Regions from separate parts of the Homo sapiens genome. Here region 2 is linked to region 1. The links come from fine-mapping of genetic effects on gene expression. A gene starts in region 1. The other region holds a variant in brackets. All regions are shown on one strand. Distances are between the middles of the regions.

Evidence for each region. PIP is the estimated chance that this variant, and not a neighbour inherited with it, causes the effect. A credible set is the group of variants that fine-mapping cannot tell apart.
Region 2: its variant is the best candidate, but not a certain one, in a credible set for the expression of LINC02716 in hippocampus (GTEx, PIP 0.88).

Annotation. Positions count from the first base shown.
Region 1 is chr11:45,765,743-45,775,938 of GRCh38, reverse strand. It overlaps LINC02716 (long intergenic non-protein coding RNA 2716), which reads right to left and starts at 4,507. Exons shown (of 2, transcript NR_027134.1): 1 at 4,225-4,507; 2 at 3,581-3,946. RefSeq lists an enhancer at 4,314-4,815.
Region 2 is chr11:45,304,874-45,316,087 of GRCh38, reverse strand. No RefSeq gene overlaps it. Among named protein-coding and RNA genes, the nearest start is that of SYT13, 24 kb to the right of the region's middle. The variant G/A (reference allele first, on the strand shown) is at 4,768.

The sequences.
Region 1 (10,196 bases):
ACATAAATCTCTACTCCCAGCTATCTGTCCTCTCCCCATGCACACTTATTGGCAGCTGGCACCTTTCGTGACTCACATGATAAAGATTTTTAGAAATGTAACTCAAGGTAGGAAGGACATAGACACTCTTATAGTATTATTGGATATGAAAATTATGCAGGTGGGTGATTTCCCCTAGGAGACAATTCTATGTGAGTTTTAGACATCTTGCCGGAAGCTAGGCCATGATAAGGATCCCATCTCCTTTCCCCTGTCCTTATGATCAAAAGCCCCTGCTTCCCCATATTTTTTCTCATTCTAAAGCAGGGTCAGAAAGAGCCAGAAATGACTGAGTCTCTAGGTGGGAGGCTGGAGGCAAGCAGAAGAGGGGCTTGGGGGAGAGGGGAAGGGAGGCAGAGAGGGGAGGGAAGTGTGGGCCTGAGGTAGAGTCCTTTCTTTTATTTTTGTAGACTTAGGTTATTCACTGTGAGAGTCCTTTCTTTTTGCTTTGTTTTTTGAGAGAGATTCTTGCTCTGTCACCCAAGCTGGAGCGCAGTGGCGCGATCTCGGGTCACTGCAAATTACACCTCCTGGGTTCAAGCGATTCTCCTGCCTCAGCCTCCCGAGTAGCTGGGACTACAAGTGCCTGCCACCATGCCCGGCTAATTTTTGTATTTTTAGTAGAGAGGGGGTTTTGCCATGTTGGTCAGGCTGGTCTCGAACTCCTGGCCTCAAGTGATCCACCTGCCTTGGCCTCCCAAAGTGTTGGGATTATAGGCCTGAGCCACTTGCCCAGTGAGAATCCTTTTCTGACTGCATGGTTTGGCCCTGAGTGGACACTTGGAATTCAGGCTACAGGCCGGGAAAACATTACCATCCTTGCACCTGCTGGGTGGGCGCCCATTCTGTCCGACCAGGAAACAGGTCCCAGCACCCAGGTGCTAGGCATACAGCGAGGATAGCCTGGGTGTCTCCTGCTCTCAGGACCACCTTGTCTGGTGGGAGACATGCATATGTAGAAACATGGGAACATGGCAGAAGAGGCAGGAATGGAGCTGGGGGCTTTGGACCTAGGGCAGGCATGGCTGAGCTAGGCCATTTCATTCTCTCCTCCTGAAGAATGGCCCCCTTCCTTCTGCTATTGTTCTGTGGAGTCCTTCTCTGGTGCTTGGGAGCCCAGCCAGCAGTAGCCTCAGTGACCCCAGGGACAGGCCCCCACAACAGCAGAGGAGAGAGAGAGGGACCGGGGTGTTGGCGGCGAGGCTGGTGTGGAGATAGGGAGATGAATGTCTTAGCTGGAGGAGCTGGAGAAGTCCAGGCTGCCCATTTTTCAGAGGGGAAAGCTGAGGCCCTCATAGAGCAAGGGATTGTCCAGGGAAAGGAACGTGAGTATCGAGGAAGAAAAACCTGGGGGGCAGGGGCCCAGAAGAGAAGGCAGATCCCTCTCCACCCCACCCCAGGCAGGAAGCCCAGGCTCCAACCACCGCCTTTGGGCCAGGCACCTCTGCTGTCCTCTGAAGGGGTGGGGAGGATGAGTGTGGCTTCTGGCCCACTGGACATGCTTGCAAGGCACATTTGCAGATTTGCTGCTGCAAGGGGAGGGGTGGGCTGGTGGGGAGGTGCCGGCCTGATGGGGCACCTGGAGGGTGGAGAGACCCCTAGGCTCCTGTTTACTCCCCCTCAAGTCTCAGAGGCAGCCCAGAGGCAGAAGGAGACTTGATGGACACTTGCGCAAAGTCAGGGCTGGACCGGGCAATTCCACATGCAGTTCTCCTGGCTGGTGAATTCTTGAATTAGTGGGAGGGCAGGTTCACTCTCCAAAGTTGGACCATAAATTCTCCGAGGGGCAGGATCGCCTCACCCGGACACTGGCCCTTATACATCCCAGGGTACCAGTAAATGTACGCCTCATCCAGTCGCTTTTCTAACTGCAACAAGAGCGAAGGAATATTTATTGGGCACTTACTCTGTTCTAGACACTATCACAGCAGGGACTGCTTTTCATTCTGGCACCAATTCTGGGAAGTAGATGGTATTATTATCCCCATTTGACAGAGGTGGAAACTGAGGCCCAGAAAGGTGAAGTGCCTTGCATAGAGACTTGCTCAAGGTCACATGCAAATGGAATCAGGACTGGAATCCAAGTGGGTTCAGAGCCTGCCCTGAATGCCCCACTTTTCCTCCTTCCTAGGGCCCGTGGCACTCTTTCTGGGGCCAAGCTCAGGCCAAGCTGAAGGAGCCATTCTGGAAGCAATTCTGGGCAGACGAAGGCCAAGAAGCCAATTCACAGCGGTTGTGCTGACGAGTTTCTTGGCAATGTGGAAAGTCTGACGATCTTACAAATGTGTGAAACTGAGACTCAATTTTCCCTCATCCTACCTCCCCTTTCTACCCACCCTCCAACATGGATCTAAATATGGATGCTATATTGGGGGAGTAGCCCCCCTCTCTAGACTGCAAGAGAAGATGACGTTGGGGAGGAGGTGGGGCCAGCCAAATTGGGCAAGAGCGGCCTCAGATGATGCTGCCTCCAAAAAGGTCCCTGTGTAAGTATGAGGTGGGTGGCTGAGATTTCTGAAATCCGTATCTGAGATGACTAGGTGGAGTCATACATTTCCACCCTTCTGGGGTTAAGGACACAGCCTTAACCATTTAGGGTGACCATTTAGGGTGAAGTCACTGTTTATGGGAGTCTAAACTGTGACTTTGGCAAGGTGCAATATAAAAATGCTAATACATGTTTATGCACTAAGCTGGAAATAATGCCAAGCCCCTCAGTTAAAAAAAAACCTGTCAAGAATTGCAGTTTCCTTGAGTCGGAGGAACTAAGTGAGCTGTTAAATGAGGACTGTAAACCTGCCACATGGCGACGTTGCTTTGGTTATTAAATAGAAATACCTGCTTTCTATATGCATGCACTGTTGTTTACATGCCTCTGAATTTCTAATTTCTGCAGGAGATTCTGGTGACTGGTGTGCCATTTTCTCAATGTTCACAGTTATTATAACTTTAAATATTTTACCCATATCCTGTAACAATGTCATCCAAGTGTTCTTTAAGTGGTGGTGCTGAAAAACGCACCTGAAAATCGATAACATTGGAAAGGAAGTGAGATGTGATAAAACGTTATGAAGAAGGCCAAACCACCGGCAGGAAATGCTGCACTGTTAATTTAGCAGAGAGTGCGTTATGAAATATTAGCGATAATGCCAGGGAAATAAAAAGCAGCATTAAGGCAAAAATATGCCACAATTGGAGTAATGTATGCAACCTATCCTTTCTACTTTGCATTCATTTCTCTGGCAAAATTAGTCAGAAATTATGCACGCTTTGAATTATGCAAGTTTTTCAGGACCACATGCTTTGCATAAAACTCTACTGCCCTGAGGTTCTCAGTGGGTGGAAGAATGAGTGACCATATTCTAGGGTTATCTTAGGCCAGGCCGTTGTACCCTCCTGTCCTAGGTGGGGATGAAGTGACCTCATGTGTAAAATGGGACCGTTGGACTGGCTTGTCTTTCTTTCCTTATTAGACTATGTCGAGACAGGCACCATTATATTTCTGCCCCAAAGGTGTCTTTTTCTGGACGGATCCCACAGCTGATACCAAACTTGTCTTTATTAACTGTGAGGCTGGCCATTCAAACACCAGGTGCCAGAGAGGGTCCCTCACTCATCGGAATCCGGGTGGGATGAATCCTCGGAGGCAAGGTCCCTCCACCTTCACCCTAGAGTCACACAGAGACTTGCCCTGGCGGCTGGTGACAGGTGGGCGGGAGAAGAAAAGGCCCCTGGGGAGCAGGAGAAAGCCAGGTGCCATGGGGACCCAGCGCCGCTGGAGGGCAGCACCAGCACACAGCTGAGGCCGCCTCTCCCGGAGCCCGGAGGGAGCTGGGTTCCGGTCGCCAGCGGTGCCCGGGTGAGCAGTTCACCCTCACGTCCCTGCTCTGACGAAGTTTCCATTCTTCTGGAGAAGACAAAATAAACGTGAACAAATGAACAAGTGTGCATTGTCAGGCAGCAAGTGTTGGTACAAACAAGATAGTGGTGGGGGTGGGGACACCGTTAAATAGGGGCCAGGGAGGCCTAACCCGGGAGGGGATAGCTGAGATGCCACTTGAGTGGAGAAAACAGTCCGAGATCTGAAGGTGTTCATGGAGAGGGGAAGGGGCCCCTAGAGGAGTCGGGAAAGCCTGGGTCAGGGAAGACGAGAAAACTGAGGAACAGAGAAGCCAGGTAACTTACCCAGGGTCATAGAGCCGGTGAGCTGGGGACAGCGCCTGTCAACGCCCCAGAGCCTTCCACGGCACTGGTTTCTCCGACCTTCCTCTCTAAACAGGACCGTGACAGTGACAGTTTCTGCCCCACTCCCCATTTCTGACCGCAGTCCCCATAAGGAAACAGGGCAGGGATCACTGGCTGTGAGCCCAGCAAGTCCCCTCCCGTGGCTTTCTCAGTTATTAAATGGAAGGGTGGGTCCCCCCATAACTCCGAAGCTCCCCTCTCTAAGCGTCCGCGGGCCGGGAACGCCTGAATTCTGGCTCCCGAGCACCTTCTTGTGGACAGTTTTGGAATCACACGCTCAGCGAGAAAGGGTCGTGGGAAAATGGTCTGTGCTAATTTCGGAGAGGCCAGTGGATTGGAAGGTTATCACTGAGGGTGGGTGCACGTGTGTGTGTGTGTGCGCGCACGTGCATGCGTGCATGCATCTGTGTGCCTGTGTGTGTTGGTCTGTGTGTGAATGTACCTCTGTGCGTATCTGTGTGTATGGTTGTGTGTGAGCACATACTGCCCGAGCCTGTGTGTGTGTGAGTGTGTGTGTGCACTAATGTTTGTTTATATGGGCACAGGCACACACATGTCCATGTCCATGTGTGTGTACCTGCATCTGTATTTTTTCGTCTGGTGTATGGGCTTGTTTTTGTGTGCCTGCATGCATGTGCCCATGTGCGTGTGTGTTTTGGGAACTGGGACACAGAGGATGATATGAGAAGTCCCCAGTCTTTCTCACAAAGGCCTAACCACTCTCCCTGAAGCCAGCTTTCTCCCCTACTTGCTTCTGTCTGCACCATCACCTGAGTTCTCCCACCTGAACTTTTCACCGACATTTTTGATGATTTTTCTGTTTTGTGTCCGTTGAGGCTCATTTGAATGTTACAGATCATAGCTCAAGAAATGATTCTCAGGCCGGGCATGGTGGCTCATGCCTGTAATCCCAGCACTTTGGGAGGCTGAGGCAGGTGGATCGTCTGAGGTCAAGAGTTCAAGACCAGCCTGGCTAACATGGTGAAACCCCGTTTCTACTAATAATAACAAATTAGCCAGGTGTGGTGGCGTGTGCCTGTAATCCCAGCTACTCGGGGGGCTGAGGCAGGAGAATCACTGGAACCGGTGAGGCAGAGGTTGCAGTGAGCTGAGATCCCTGGGTGACACAGCGAGACTCCGTCTAAAAAAAAAGAAAGAAAGAAGTGATTCTCCTCTAGTCTACTCACCCAAATCATGAGTTTCACTTCTCAGGTGGGCTGATCACCCACTGTCCTGTTGAGACCTGGGGACTTGTACAAAGTCGTACCCTGGAGGGTTGAGCAGAAAACCAGGCACATAGTAACTAAGACAATGGCGCGTTAGCAAAGCACTCCACACATCCCGTTCACATGTGTGTCTTACTTGACTCACAAACTGATCTTTCATCCTTTTTTTTTTCCTTTTTTGTGGTGAACAGGGTCTTGCTATATTGCCCAGGCAGGTCTCAAACTACCGGCTGATCTTTCAAGCCTAGGCAAGGTGAGGCTAATTATTCCCATTTTACAGATGAAGACACTGAGGCTCAGAGAGGGAAATAATGAAAATAGTACTGCAGGAACCATCTAACCAATATGCAAACTCTCTCATCCAGTTTTCATAACATCATCAATTCCCTTCTTTAAAAGACAAGGAGATGGAGGCTTTAAAAATGTAAGGCGAGTGCTTAATGCCATATAGCCAATCAGTAGTTGAGGCAGGATTTGAATCTCGCTCCAGAGATTAAAGCCCAAGTCCTAAACACAATGGCAGGCGTGAGGGCCCTGGGCACACACTGACTCAAGCTCTTTCAGCCACACACTGTCCCTTTGCCATGCCTCTGGGGTCCTAAGAACATCCTCCTCTGAGCCCACAGGGAGGTCATTCCCCATCCTGGGTGCCCCTGCTCCTCTCCCAGATGCGGGGCAGGTGAATCTTGTAACCTGTGTCACTCTCAGAGGCTGAGATGGGGACTGAGCATTAATTATGCAATAACCTCGCTGTGGTGTGCCTAATTGTCTGATAACCATAATTGAATCTTATGGATTACACCAACATTATTGCAGGGAGCAGCTTAAGGCAGTTAACAGAAGCTGCACTCACTTTGTGATATCTTCCTCCTGTCTCCTTGCTGGCTGGGCTGTGAGTCCTTTCCTGGGGGCTGAGGGAGGCCTCGAGGTGCAGGGGGCAGGCAGGAGGTGAGTGACAGCACAAATGTCGCATCACCTTATCCCCCCGAGGGCACCATCTTCCTGGCTGAGAAAAGTCTGTGTGGCAGGTGGAATTATCATTTTGTAAATGAGAATGTGGCATCAGAAGGCTGAGAGACTCTCCCAATTTCAGTCTTGCTCATTGCTACTGGTCCTTGCTAGCATCATCTGGGACTGTTTAGACGTGCAGCATCTCAGCTGGGCTCGGTGGCTCACGCTTGTAATCCCAGCACTTTGGGAGGCCAAGGCGTGTGGATCATGAGATCAGGAGTTTGAGACCAGCCTGACCAACATGGTGAAACCCCGTCTCTAAAAATTAGCTGGGCATGGTGGTGCGTGCCTGTAATCCCAGCTACTCAGGAGGCTGAGGTAGGAGAATTGCTGAACCTGGGAGGCGGAGGTTGCACTGAGCCGAGATCACGCCACTGTACTCCAGCCTGCGTGACAGAGCAAGACTCCGTCTCAAAAAAAAAAAAAAAAAAAAAGAAATGCAGCATCTCAGGCCCCACCCTGGACCTACTGAATCAGAAGCTGCATTATTTTTTATTAAATGAATTTTTTTTCTTTAAAGAGATGAGATTTTGCTCTGTCTTCCAGGCTGGAGTGCAGTGGTGCGATTGTGGCTTGCTGCAGCCTCGAACTCCTGGGCTTGAGAGATCCTCCAGCCTCAGCCTCCCTAGTAGCTGGGACTACAGTCGGAGCCACCATGCCTGGCTCTCAGAATCTGCATTGTAATAGCATCTCAGGTGATTTATTTTCACGTTGCCGTTTGCTGAGTGCTGGTTTATGTAATTATTTATTCATTGCCTATGTGGGATCCATTGCCCTTTCTTGTGTCAGCAACACCTTGACTTCCATTTGGGAAATAACCCTTCTTCCCATATGGGAGACCCCTAGCTGTACCCTTACTCCTACCTCCCTCAGGCATTGACCCCAGGCCAGGCCAATGAGTCAGTTCCAAGATCTTTGAGGCACTGTTGAGGAAGACGTGTTTGATGGAGTTTTGCTGAGGCTTCTTCATTCCCTCCCTCCCTTGCATGGTTCACTGTGGGTGAATATTCTTCCCCACACCATCCATGGTGAGCTCAGCCACTGACTTGCTTTGGTCAATGGAATGTCGGTAGAAGTGATGATGTGTGGGTTCCAAGCTAGGCCTTAAAGAAGTATCTTGTGTTTCCGCTTGCCCCTCTAGAGCTCCTGCCCACCATGAGAAAGGAAGGTACACCCAGGCGACCATGGCACCTTCATCTGGAGTCCAGGATGGAGACTGTGGGGCAAATTGAACCTAACCAGAGACTGGAGTCCAGCCTAACTCTGATATTAACAACCCCCCAACTAACCTGCAGACCCATGAGTATGAAAGGAATGGTTGTTATAAGCAACTGAGATTTTCAGAGTGCTTGTTGCATGGCATTGGTGCAGCAGACACCTGACTGGTATAAAAGACATACTTTCTTTCCAGGGGGATTGCTAAGCTGAATTTGGATTTTAGGTGTTATCTTGTCACTAGGAAAGCAGGGCCTGCCTAAGGGCAAAACCAACCCAGAGGGAAATGGAGCTGAGATAGGATGAGAGCCCTGATCATGATGACAGCCTTTGTTTTCATGGATCCAGCCTCACAGGAGTTAGTCAACTCTTTCAGTCTCAAGGAGTAGAGAGCTGAAACTTCGCTGGCTTAAACCCAAGAAGGAATTAGCGGCTCACATAGCTCAGAAGTCTGGAGGTGATGTGGGTTTCAGGTGAGGCTTGAATCAGTAGCCCCTGGACCAGTGTCCTTGTCTCTCCACTCTGGGTCCCATTTTGCTGGTTTCATCTGGAGGCTGGCTCCCCTTTGTGATATCGTAAAATACATATTGAGTTGTTGTCCACATTTCCTGGCATGTTACTCCTAAAATCTATGGAATCTCCAAAGTGGTAAGTGTCTTTTTGTATGCTAATGAGTTGACAGTTGGCTGGCAGCCCCTAGGTAGCTTGAGGATGGGGGCTACTCCAGAAAGTTCAAGGCAGGATTAGAGGACTGGGGCTTTCAGCCCCACTCCCATTCTCTCTTAGAGGGGAGAGGGGCTGGAAGTTACGTTGATCACCAATGGCCGATGGCTTAATCAATCACGCCTGTGTAATGAAGCCTCCATAAAAACCCTGAAGGACAGGGTCTGGAGAGCTTCTGGACAGCTGGACACACGGGGCTCCTGGAGGATGGCGCTCTGCTCCCCCATACCTTGCCCTATGCATTGCCCATCTGTGTCCTCTGTGGTATCCTTTATAATAAGTGAGTCAACGTGTTTCCCTGAGTTCTGTGAGCTGCTCTAGCAAATTAATCCAACCAATGAGGGGATTGTGGGAACCTCAATTATAGTCAGTTGGTCAGAAGCACAGCTAAAATACTCTGGGACTTGTGATTGGCATCGGGAGAAGGGGAGCATCTTGGGGACTGAGTCCTTAGCCTGTGGAACCTGACGCTATCTCCAGGTGGGGAAGTGAACTGAATTAGAGGACACCGAACTGGTGTCTGCTGCGTAATTGATTGCTTGCTTACTATGTGGGAACGCCTCCCCAAACACCCATCTGGTGTAAGAAGCCCACTGTGAGTGTATAGTGGGAGAAACAGTCTGCTTATCCATGTATTCTCAGACCCTCATTGGAGCACGATGGCGTCCTTGTTCGGGTCTAACAGGAGAGAGAGTGTTTGTTCTGGAAGCGAGGAAGCTTCTTTCTCAGGAGCTGGCAGCAAATGTCTCAGGTCTCATGGCCTCAGGTCAGGTCACATACCGTCCCTGCACCAATCTCAGAGGCTGGAGACAGAATGTGCTGATGGGCCAAGGCTGGCTGGCTGGGGGGCAGGTTAGTGTCACTGAACAGCACAGAGCCTCAAGAGAAATAGGGCTTGGCCTGAGGAGAGGTGTTGGGGATGCTGGCTGGGAAGACGCAGGAGTTCCCTATTGCTGCTGTAAAACAGCATCACAAACGTGGGGGCTTAAAGCAACAAACATTTATTCTCTCACTTTTTTTTTTTTTTAGATGAAGTCTTGCTTTGTCGCCCAGACTGGAGTGCAGTAGATTGATCTCAGCTCACTGCAACCTCCGCCTCCCGGGTTCAAGCGATTCTCCTGCCTTAGCCTCCTGAGTAGCTGGGATTACAGGCTCCCACCACCATGCCCGGCTAATTTTTGTATTTTCAGTAGAGACAGGGTTTCACCATGTTGGCCAGGCTGGTCTCGAACTCCTGACCTCAAGAGATCTTCCTGCTTCAGCCTCCCAAAATGCTGGGATTACAGGCATGAGCCACTGTGCCCAGCCTATTCTCTCACATTTTTTGAGGCTAGAATTCAGACAAGGTGGGGCAAGGTTGGTTCCTTCTGGAGCTTCTGGGGGAGAATCGGCTCCATACCTCGCCCAGCTTACAGTGGTTGCCAGAAGCACTTGGTGTTCCTTGGCTTGTAGCCACATCACTCCAATCTCTCCTTCTGTTGTCACATGGTGTATGACACATGCCAACACAAACAACTCATTTCTTTTTTTTTTGTATTTTTTGTAGAGATGGGGTTTTGCCATGTTGCCCAGGCTGGTCTTGAACTCCTAGACTCAAGTGATTGCCTGCCTCGGACTCCCAGAATGCTGGGATTACAGGCGTGAGCCACCATGCCCCACCAAGCCACTGTGGTCAGCCCACATGGCCTTCTTACAAAAATACCTGTCATTGGATTTAGTGGCCACCCTAATCCAATA
Region 2 (11,214 bases), 460 kb after region 1:
CCTTCTTAAATTAGCATAAAGTATAATGTAAAAATGTAACGATATGATATAATTCTCCTTGGAATAGGAAAAATAATTTTAAAATTCAGATGGAAGAATAAATATTCAAGAATTGCCAAGAAAATTTTTGAAAAGTAGTAGTGAGGAGAAACTTGCCCCAGAAAATAATTAAAACTTTGGTCTAAAGGTATTAGAAGAGAAATAAGTCTAATTTTGACACCAAAATACACAAATATATCTTTGGCCCAAGAAAGAGAGTCCAAAAATAGACCTAAAATATGTGAGAATGTAATCATAACAAAGGTGATGCTTCAGCTCAGTGGGTTGAGCCGTTTATTTACTAAATTGGCTCTGCATCTGGATTGAATAAAGTTAGATCTTTTCTATACAGTGTGCACATTAACAATTTTCAGATGTTTTAAAGACTTAATATAACAACTAAAACTCTAAAAAGATAAAATGTAGAAGTGGGAAATACCTTATTAGGTAAGGTATGACACACAAGCCATAAAGAAAAAATGGACAGATTTAATTTCATAAGTATTAACATTTTCTCTCTAAAAATGACACCACAAACAAAGTCAAAAGACAAAGTCTATTCGAGGAGGACATAGTATAAAACAAATGATGAGTAAATGGGTAATATCCCTAATAGAAAGAGATCTTATCAATATAAATTGATAAGAATATGACAAACAGCCCAGCTGGGGAACGGACAAAGAAGAGGCTTCCATTTTCAGAAATATTTTGGAATGAGTTTTCCAAGAAACTCTTCTCCATACAGAAAGATCTAAAAATGCTTAAGAGAGTAGAAGTAAAATATTTTTCAAAAGCCCGATTGAGCTGGCATGAAAGTCAGGGAAACAATCATAGGGCAGAAATGACAAGAGATGCTGACTAGAAGGGCAAGAAATTGCTGGAGTTGATGTTTGCTCTAAAGACATCTTTTCATCCCTGGTGGCCAATTGGGTTTTAACAGCGCAGGAGGTGTCCAAGACAGGACATAGAGCCTGGGACCAGGGCAGTAGGGAGGTCACCCTAAAGATACTCACATGAAGCCAGAATTTTAAAAGGGAGTTTGTGATCTAGGATATACTTTAAACATAAGAAGAAACCTTAAATGAATTGAAAAGGATACATTTTGCAAATACAAACCAAATAAACACTGAGGTAACCATATATCTAAGACTACATGTCAGACAAAGTGTACTTTGCAGAAAGAAGCATTACTAGAGAGAGGGGAAATAAATAAGGATGCAGGTGTGTAAATGCACCAGAAAGATATCACAGTTCTAAATCTGCATGCCCCCAGTATCATAATGTGAAAATATTTAAAGCACAAATTGGTAAGACTTAAAAAATAAAAGAAAGATGCAAAGCCTCAATCATAGCAGGGGACTTTAATGTGACTTATTTAATTGCTGATAGAACAATCAGACAAAAAACATGCAGAATATAGATATGCAAAAAAACCTTAAACTTGACCCAATTAATATATATTCACACACACACACACACACACACACACACACACACAACATTGCAAATTGCCAGGTGTGGTGGCTCATGCCTGTAATCCCAGCACTTCAGGAAGCCGAAGTGGGAGGATCACTTGAGCTCAGGAGTTGGAGGCCAGCCTGGACAACATAATGAGAACACATCTCTACAAAAAAAAAATATTAGCCAGTCATGGTGGCACTCACCTGTAGTTCCAGCTACTCAGGAGACTGAGGAGGGAGGATTGCTTGAGCCTGGGAAGCAGAAGTTGCAGTGAGCTGAGATCATGCCACGCACTCCAGCCTTGGCAGTGGAGTGAGGTCCTGTCTCAAAAACAAAACAAAACAAAAAACACCACTGCAACTGACAACTGTGTAGGAGATAGAAAAAAACTAAACTTTTGTTTCTACTTTTAACACAGCACAAAGCACTTCTGGTTACCAAAATGTGCTTGGGGTTTTCCCCACACACTAACCGGTTCTCCAGTGAACACCAACACGGTGTCCTACAATGTAACCAGATTCTGACACCATCTACCTGGAGTTACAGTGAGATCCCACAGGTGAAGGGCTCAGTTTCACAAGACTGCCCCTCACTTCAGATATCACTTCCGAGTGGTAGGTTACCCACAACTTCTGTTCAACTTGGCTACAAACTGGAGGTTTCCCAGACCCCCTTCTCAGGTTCAATTACTTTTCAAGACCAACTCGCAGAAGTCAGAGAAACACATTTGCTGGTTTATTATATTATTAATGGATATGATAAAGATTTCTAATGAACAGACAGTTGAAGGGATACAAAGGATGAAGTCTGGAAGGATCCCAAGTGCAGGAGCCTCTGTCCCCAGGGAGCTGGCACGCACCACTCTCTTGCCACATGGATGTGCTTATTTAGAAGCTCTCCAAACCCCAGAGTGCAGAGATTGTGATGGAGGCTTCATCACTTGGGCATGATGGGTTATTAACTCAATCTCCAGCCCCTCTCCCAATCCCAGAGAATGTGAGGTGGGGCTGGAAGCTCCAAGCTTCTAATCATGGCTTCTATCTCTGGTGACCAGCTCTCATTCAGGAACCAGCAAGAGACAAGTCATTAGAGCAAAAGATGCAAAAGACTTCACAAATTCCAGGGAATTAAAAGCTGTGTGTTAGGAACCAGGGTAAAAGACCAAATAGTAGAGCAAAAGAGGCTCCTGGCACTCCTACTGCTCAGGAAATTACAAGGGTTTTAGGAGTTCTGTGCCAAGAACCAGGGACAAAGACTGAAATAGATATTTCTTATTGTAAATCACAGTATCACAGTGACAAAATCCACACATTTTTCAAGTGCACATGGCATGTTTACCAAATTTACCACATGCCAGTCTATTTTTAAAAGTCTCAAAAAAGAATTCAGCAGATTAGAAGCATTCAGAGTATATTCTCTGATAACTAGAATTAAGCTAGCAATTAATATCAAAAAGACAACTAGAAGATTACCAACTGCCTGGAAGTTAAACAATGTATGTTTAAAAATCCATATGTCAAAAAAAGAAATTACAATAGAAATTAGAAAACAATTTGAAATGAATGACAATAAAGATAAGACATATAAAATATGTGGGATAAAGCCAAAGCATTGCTTAGGGAAAAACTTACAGTCTTTGGTACATATATTAGAAATAAAAAAAAAAGAAGTCAATAGTTTAAATTCTTATCTCAATAAGATCAAAAAAATCCTAAGCTAATTAAATCCAATGAAAGTAGAAAGAGGAAAATAATAAAGATAAAAATCAGAAATCAGTGCAATACAAAGCATGCAATAGAGACAAATCAATAAAGCCTAAAGTTAGTTCTTTGAAAAGATTAGTAAAATAAACCTCTGTCAATACTGACCAAGAACAAAGAGATAAAACTCAAATTATTAATATAAGGAGGACGTCACTACAGATCTTAGACAGAAGTGTATAAGAAGAAGACATTATAAACAATTTTATTTTAAAAAATTTAAAAATTTTGATAAAATGGACAACTTTCTTTTAAAAAGAAATAGACTTGGCAAATGAAGAAGGAAAATATAGAAAATTTAAATTTTCTTACACCTGTTAAGTAAATTGAATCTGTTTATAAAAATATTCCCACAAAGAAAATTTTGGGCTCAAATGGCTTCACTGGAGAATTCTTCCGTACATTTAAGGAAGAAATAATACAAATTTGCATAAATTCTTCCAAAGAGTGGAAAAAGAGAGGATACTTCCCAACTCATTTGATGAGACCAGTATAGCTTGCATATCAGAACTTGAAAAGAACATTATAGGGAAAAATTATAGATAATTCTTTTTGTAAATATTTATACAAAAATCTTCAAGTAGTAGGAGATCAAGTACAGCAATATATAAAGGAATATCACATCACAACACAAAAAGTTAATCAATGTAGATCACCACATTGATAGATGAAAGGAGAAAAAACCATATGATTACTTTGACACATTAAAATTCATTTGACAAAAATTAATAACCATTTATAATAAAAAAGAAAACTCTTAGCAAGCTAGGACTGGAAGGGAACTGCCTAAATTTGATAAAGAACAGCTACAAAAAAACCCTACAGCAAACATTATACTTAATGCTGAATTGTTAAAATCTTTTCCCTCTGAGATTGGGAATAAGACAAGGATGGCTACCATAATGACACTTATTAACATCATATTGAAGGTTCTAACCAATGGCATAAGGCAAGTAAATGAAATAAATAGTGTTAGTATGAGGAAAGAAATAAAACTGCCATTATTTGTAAAAGATGTGATTGTGTATGTAGAGAATTCCAAAGAATCTACAGAGAAACTATTGGAATTTCTAAGCAAGTTTAGCAAGGCCACTAGATTCAAAGCTAACATAAAAACTTAATTGTATTTCTATGTTCCAGCAACAATACATAGAAAACAAAAATTTTAAAATGAATCCTTTTACTGTACCATGGACCATCAAACATCTAGGGATAAACTTAATGAAAGTTGGGCAAGACCTCATCACTTAAAAATGTAAAATATTATTGGAATAGATTAAAGAAGACCTAAATATTGCAAAGATGTAAATTTTTCCCAACTTGATCATAGACATGTGAAAAGGTGTTCAACTATTTTTTTTTTTTTTTTTTTTTGAGACAGGTTCTTGCTCTGTAATCCTGGCTGGAGTACAATGGTGTGTGATCTCGGCTCATTGCAACAGCTGCCTCCCCAGCTCAAGCAATTCTCCCACCTCAGCCTCCTGAGTAGCTGGAACTACAGGCATGC[G/A]CCACCATGCCCAGCTACTTTTTGGCCTATTTTGTAGAGTCGGGATTTTGCTGTGTTGCTCAGGCTGGTCTTAAACTCCCGGGCTCAGGCAATCCACCCACTTTGGCCTCCCAAAGTGCTGGGATTATAGGCGTGAGCCATTGTGCCAGGCCAGATATTTGACTTTTATTCATTACTAGGGAATGCAAAATAAAAGCACAATAAGAAACCATAACTAACCTACCAGAATGGGCAGAATTTAAAAGATTCAATACCCATTGGAGCAAACAGAACATTTATACATTGCTAGTGGGAGAATACATCAGTAGAAATACTTTGAAAAGCTCTGTCTCTAATAAAGCCGAACATGTGCCCATCCAATAACCCAGTGATGATGCCCCATTTGGGTAAATACATGTGTTCACCAGGAGATGTACACAAGAATATTATTATCAGCACTATTAATAACAACAAAATACTAGAGATTACCCAACTGCTCACCAAGAGTAGAACAAGTAAATAAATTGTAATGGGTTCACACACCATAAAATATTATACTGCAATGAGAATAAATGAACTCTTGTTACATGTTGTTAGTATGGATGAAATTCTTAATATAATGTTTATTTGAAAGAAGCTAAATCAAACACAAAAGAAGATGGGGGAAACTGTTCTAAATTGGAGGAGATCAAAGACACATAAGGGCATATGTTTGGAAGATAACTGAGGAAATTTGTAAATAGACCATATGTTGGATAAAGTAATTGAATTATTGGCCTAGATATGGTAATGATAATGAGCTTGTGTAGGGAAATGCCTCCATTCGTAGGGGAAGCATACTGAAGTGTTTAGGGGTGAATATCATGATAATTGTAGACTATTTTGAATGATTTGATGAGAGGAAAGTGTGTGTATTTAAAAAGAGAGAGACAGAACCAACATGGCAAAATATTAAAGGTTGGTGAATATAGGTGAGGAGGTACACTTTCTACTTTTCTAGGAGCTTAAAATTTTTTTCTAAAGAAAATTAAAGGGACAGACACATGAAAAAATGCTCATCATCACTGGCCATCAGAGAAATGCAAATCAAAACCACAATGAGATACCATCTCACACCAGTTAGAACGGTGATCATTAAAAAGTCAGGAAACAACAGGTGCTGGAGAGGATGTGGAGAAATAGGAACACTTTTACACTGTTAGTAGGACTGTAAACTGGTTCAACCATTTGTGGAAGACAGTGTGGCAATTCCTCAAGGATCTAGAACTAGAAATACCATTTGACCCAGCCATCCCAGTACTGGGTATACACCCAAAGGATTATAAATCATGCTGCTATAAAGACACTTGCACCCGTATGTTTATTGCGGCCCTATTCACAATAGCAAAGACTTGGAACCAACCCAAATGTCCATCAATGATAGACAGGATTAAGAAAATGTGGCACATATGCACCATGGAATACTATGCAGCTATAAAAAAAGATGGGTTCATGTCCTTTGTAGGGACGTGAATGAAGCTGGAAACCATCATTCTCAGCAAACTATCACAGGGACAAAAAACCAAACACTGTATGTTCTCACTCATAGGTGGGAATTGAACAATGAGAACACTTGGACACAGGGTGGGGAACATCACACACCAGGGCCTGTCGTGGGGTGGGGTGAAGGGGGAGGGACAGCATTAGGAGATATACCTAATGTAAATGATGAGTTAATGGGTGCAGCAAACCACCATGGCACATGTATACATATTTAACAAACCTGCACGTTGTGCACATGTACCCTTGAATTTAAAGTATAATAAAATAATAATAATAATAATAATAAAGAAAATAAAAGGGAAAATAAAAGTAATGCACACCAATTAGAGAAAATTTGTAAAATAAAATATAAAGAAGAGGAAAAAGATATAGAAAATCCAAATAGATTCTCCTTTAAAAAACATTGACTCCATTGAGAATATCTGCTATTTCTGCTTTTATTCAATATTGATTTGGAGCTCCTGGTAGCACAGTAATAAAAGAAAAAGAAATGAGTAAAGATGGAACAGAAAGAAAAAATTATCCACATGGAAGACCCAAGAGTATCTACAGACAAATTATAACTAAGAGAGTTTGCAAGGTTGCTGCATATAAAATAAATAAGCAAAGATAAGGCTGGCGAGGTGGCTCATGCTTCTAATCCCAATACTTTGGGAGGCCGAGGGGGGTGGAACACTTGAGGTCAGGAGTTCGAGACCAGCCTAGTCAACATGGTGAAACTCCGTCTCTACTAAAAATACAAAAATTAGCTGGACGTGGTAAGGCTGAGGCAGGGAGAATCGCTTGAACCTGGGAGGCAGAGGTTGCAGTGAGCCAAGATTGTGCCACTGCACTCCAGCCTGGGCGACAGAGTGAGATTCCATCTCAAAACAAAAGAAAAAAATAAAAGACAAATAAACAAAGATAAAATTCACTTTTTACATTCTAGCATCATAGAGCTAGTAAAGGAAATTTTTAAAAGATTTCATTTAAATATAACAACAAAATAATTAAAGACTACAAAAGATATACAAGATCTTTAGGTAGCAAACAATAAAACTTAATTGAAAGACATTCAAGAAGGCCACAGTGATGGAGAGATAAGCTGTGTTCATAGTCGGGAAGATTTAACCACATAAATATATCAATTCACCCCAAATCAATTTCTAAATTCAATTCCAGTCCAAATCCCCAAGATGCTTTTTATTGAACTTGACAAATGGATTCTAAATATATAGAGATATGAAAAAGCAAGAATAGCCAAGACAATTTTGCAGTTAGTGAAGCTTGTCTTGGCAGGTATTAGGATTTTAATAGAAACCCAGTGTGATCGAGAACAAGGAAGGACATATGGATTAACGGAACAGAATAGGGAGTCCAGAAACATAGATGAAAATATTATATTCCCACATGAATAAGGAAACTTTATACTTGCCAAAGATGGCATTGCAAATCAATGTGAAAAGGATGGACTCGTCAATCAACCACGTACAGAAGACTGATTATGGAAAAAGTAAAATTAGCTCCCTACCTCCAACCGAACACAGAAAAAATTCCCACACAGATTAATGACTTAATGTGAAAAACAGAAGTTTAAAACTTTCAGAATAAAATATAGAATATTTTTATTATTTCAAATAGGGAAGAATTGTTTAAAACACAAAAAGCACAGCTATGAAAGAAAAAATGGATAGATTTGATTGTCTTCACACTAAAAGTGTTTGTGTAGCAAAAGTCACCATAAACAATGAGAAGACATGAGTCACTAATTGGGAGAGGAAATCTTCCATATAAATGACAAAGAACTAGGATCAGTGTTATATAAAGAATTTCTACGAAGCAAAGAAGAAAAAGATAGTAAAATTTGGCAAAAACCATAAAAAGACGTTTCTCAGAAGCAGCAATATGAAACGTATCTATGAAAAGATGATCAGTATCCTTCATAATTAGGGAAATACAAATCAATCTCATTATGAGTTTTTATTTTACCCCCATTATTGGCAAAAGTTAAAAGTCAGATAACACCAAGTGATGGTAAAGATAAGGAACAGTGAAAACTCTCTCTTTCAATGCTAGAGGGTGCAGCTTGGTTTATGATAACTTAAGGTGTGCATCTCTTACAACCTTGCCATCCACTCCTGGGTACATTCTAGAGCAAACTCTGGCACAGAAAGAGGACATATAAGAATACTCAATTCAACATTGTTTATGACAGTAAAAATTGGAAACAACTTTTATTACCCATCAGCAGGAGAACAAATAACTACTTATGGTATATCTGAATAATATTAATAACATACCATATACCACTGGGAGTGAGTGAACTAGAGCTATAGACATGACATGGATAAATCCCACCAACATAAAATTGGAAAGACTGCATACAATAAAGAATGCATACAATTAATATATAGAATTTAAAAATATGAAAAACACAGTATATAAAAACACACATATGTGTTTCAAACACAAAACACACATGAAAATAAATAACCGGCAAATTCCAGACTTCCCAGGTTACCTCTAGAGAGAAGAAAAAGATGGCAGAGAGGAGGGGCTTTAAGCTATATCTATAATGGTTTCTCTCTTATTCTGGGTGGTGGGAGCCCAGATACCCACTGTATTAAATATTATCCTCTCTACTGTTTTTTTGCTATGTCAAAATATTTCATAATTTAAAAAGGAGGAACATAAAATAAAATACAAAGCATGATAGAAAACAAGCAGAGCTACTTGTAAATACCAGAGACTGGGCCCACCAGGAAGGAAATGGAGAGGGTGCTCCTGGATGACTGGCCCCACCTCAAGTAGCATGGGGGCTCCAGGAAGTGGCGTTGAGCTCACACCCTTTATCTGATGTGGGTGTTTGATGGGTGTGACAATGGCTGACCAGAGTCCTGGGGACTGTGGAAAACTTGTCCTACACCATAGTTCAGACACCTGCCAGAGATCATGGAAAGCCTGAAGTCTTCCCTGGACCATCCCAGCTGCAGAGAATCTCCACCAGTCATTTATTCAAGATTATGACAAGTATTTATTGACTACTCACTATGTGCTAAAGAAACTAGAGAAACAATAGTGAATGAAATGGACTTGGTTCCTGCCATCATCGAGATGACAAGCTGGAGGAGGAGATGGGCCTTAATCTCATGATCACAGAGAGAAGTATGTGTCTCCAGGTTGTGACAAGTGCTGTGAAGGAAAACCACAGGGTGCTAAGGGAAGATGCAAGTCACCCAGCTGGAGTTTGGAGTCAGGAAAGTTGGTGGAGGGAGAAGCATTGAAGTTTGTAGGTTGAGAAGGGGGCTACCCAGCAAAGAGCAGAGTCAGAGGGGAGGAGAAACCTCGCACTTTCCCCCAGGATCCTGGGGGTCCTGGGGTTGGGGTGATGGGGCTGGGGCATAGTCACAAAGGGGCATAGCAAGACTGTGCCGGGCCTCCTGGCACACCGAAAGAGCCTCAGCCTGAGAGCAATAAAAAGGCATTGAATCATTCTGACATAAGCAGATTGCATCTTTAGAAGTTCACTCTGTTGACAACACCAAGCACTGACCAGGCTGCAGAGCACCTAGAACACTCCTCCACTGATGGTGGGAATGCAAAACACTACAGCCACTCTGGAAAACAGCTCGACACTTTCTTATAAAGTTAAACATGCATATGACCCAGCAGGAGTGAAAGCTTATGTTCACACAAAATCCTGGACGTTATTGTTTTGTTCATAATCACTAAGCACTGGAAGCAATCCAGATGTCCTTGGATTGGTGAATAGATAAACAATCTGGGTACATACACATAGAGCAAATAAAATACAATAAAAAATCAGTCTCCTGCTATAGACAACAACATGAATATATCTCACACATTTTGCTAGATGAAAGGAATGGGATGCACAGGGCTTCCTTCTGTTTGACTCCATTCATGTGACATTGTGGAAAAGGCAGAAAACAGACCAGTGGTTTCCAGGGGCTGAGGCTGTGGGGAAGAGGTGATTACAAAGGGGCACTGGGGAATATTTTGGAGCTGTTCTCTATCTCGACTGTGGTAGGAGCTACCTGGTAGTATGCATTTATTGAAACTTACAGAACCGCATGCCCCAAAGGGTGAATTTTACTGTTTATGAATCATGCCTCAATTTAAAAAAAGAAATAAATTTAAAAAATCACTTTGGCTGCTCAAGGAGAAGTGATTAGAGACAGCTCTGGTCAATATGGTGGCCTGAATTCCCATTTGGAACTCTGCTCCCACATCAAACACCTAGAGTGCTAGATAAAGACATCCTCTTCCCATCTCTGAGGAATACAGAGCTGAAATTGAGAGCAAGAAAGGAAGAGTCTCAGGTGTCTGAGTTAAAGGTGTTGAAAGTCGGGGAGGTTACCAAGAGCTGACGCTGTGGGTCTCATGGGGATACCTAAAGACATCCCAGCGTTTCTCACTGCTAGTTACCAGACCTGCAGGGGCTGCTGGTTCAATCCTAGCCACTCGAGAGGCAGAGATTTAGGGTCTTCCCAGAACCACCTTGGGACCTATGCTTGGTGAAAGAATGTGTGTGCAAAGAAAGCCTGCCCTGAACAACTTGCTTTCTTGTCGGGAAAAGGCTATCTGGACACCTTGGTGAGATGCCATGAGATACACTCAACATGCATTACTTCCAAGTAGCAGGAATAGTCGCATACCAGTTCACAAGACTCACAAATGCAGCTTGAGAGGCTGGGTGCACGACAAGGATAGGAGAATGTGTCCTGGCATGGCCACCTGCTTGTCTGTAGATGGAAATTACCCATCGAACACATCAGCCTTGTAAAAAAGCCCACCCACTTGCCAGAATGAGGGTCCAAGAAAGAGAATGAAAGAGAATGAGTCCACTGATTTTGCCATTGTTGGCTCTAGAGCATAAGAGAGGCCCCTGGGGCCCCACAGGAGTCACCTTGACTGGCTTTGAGAATG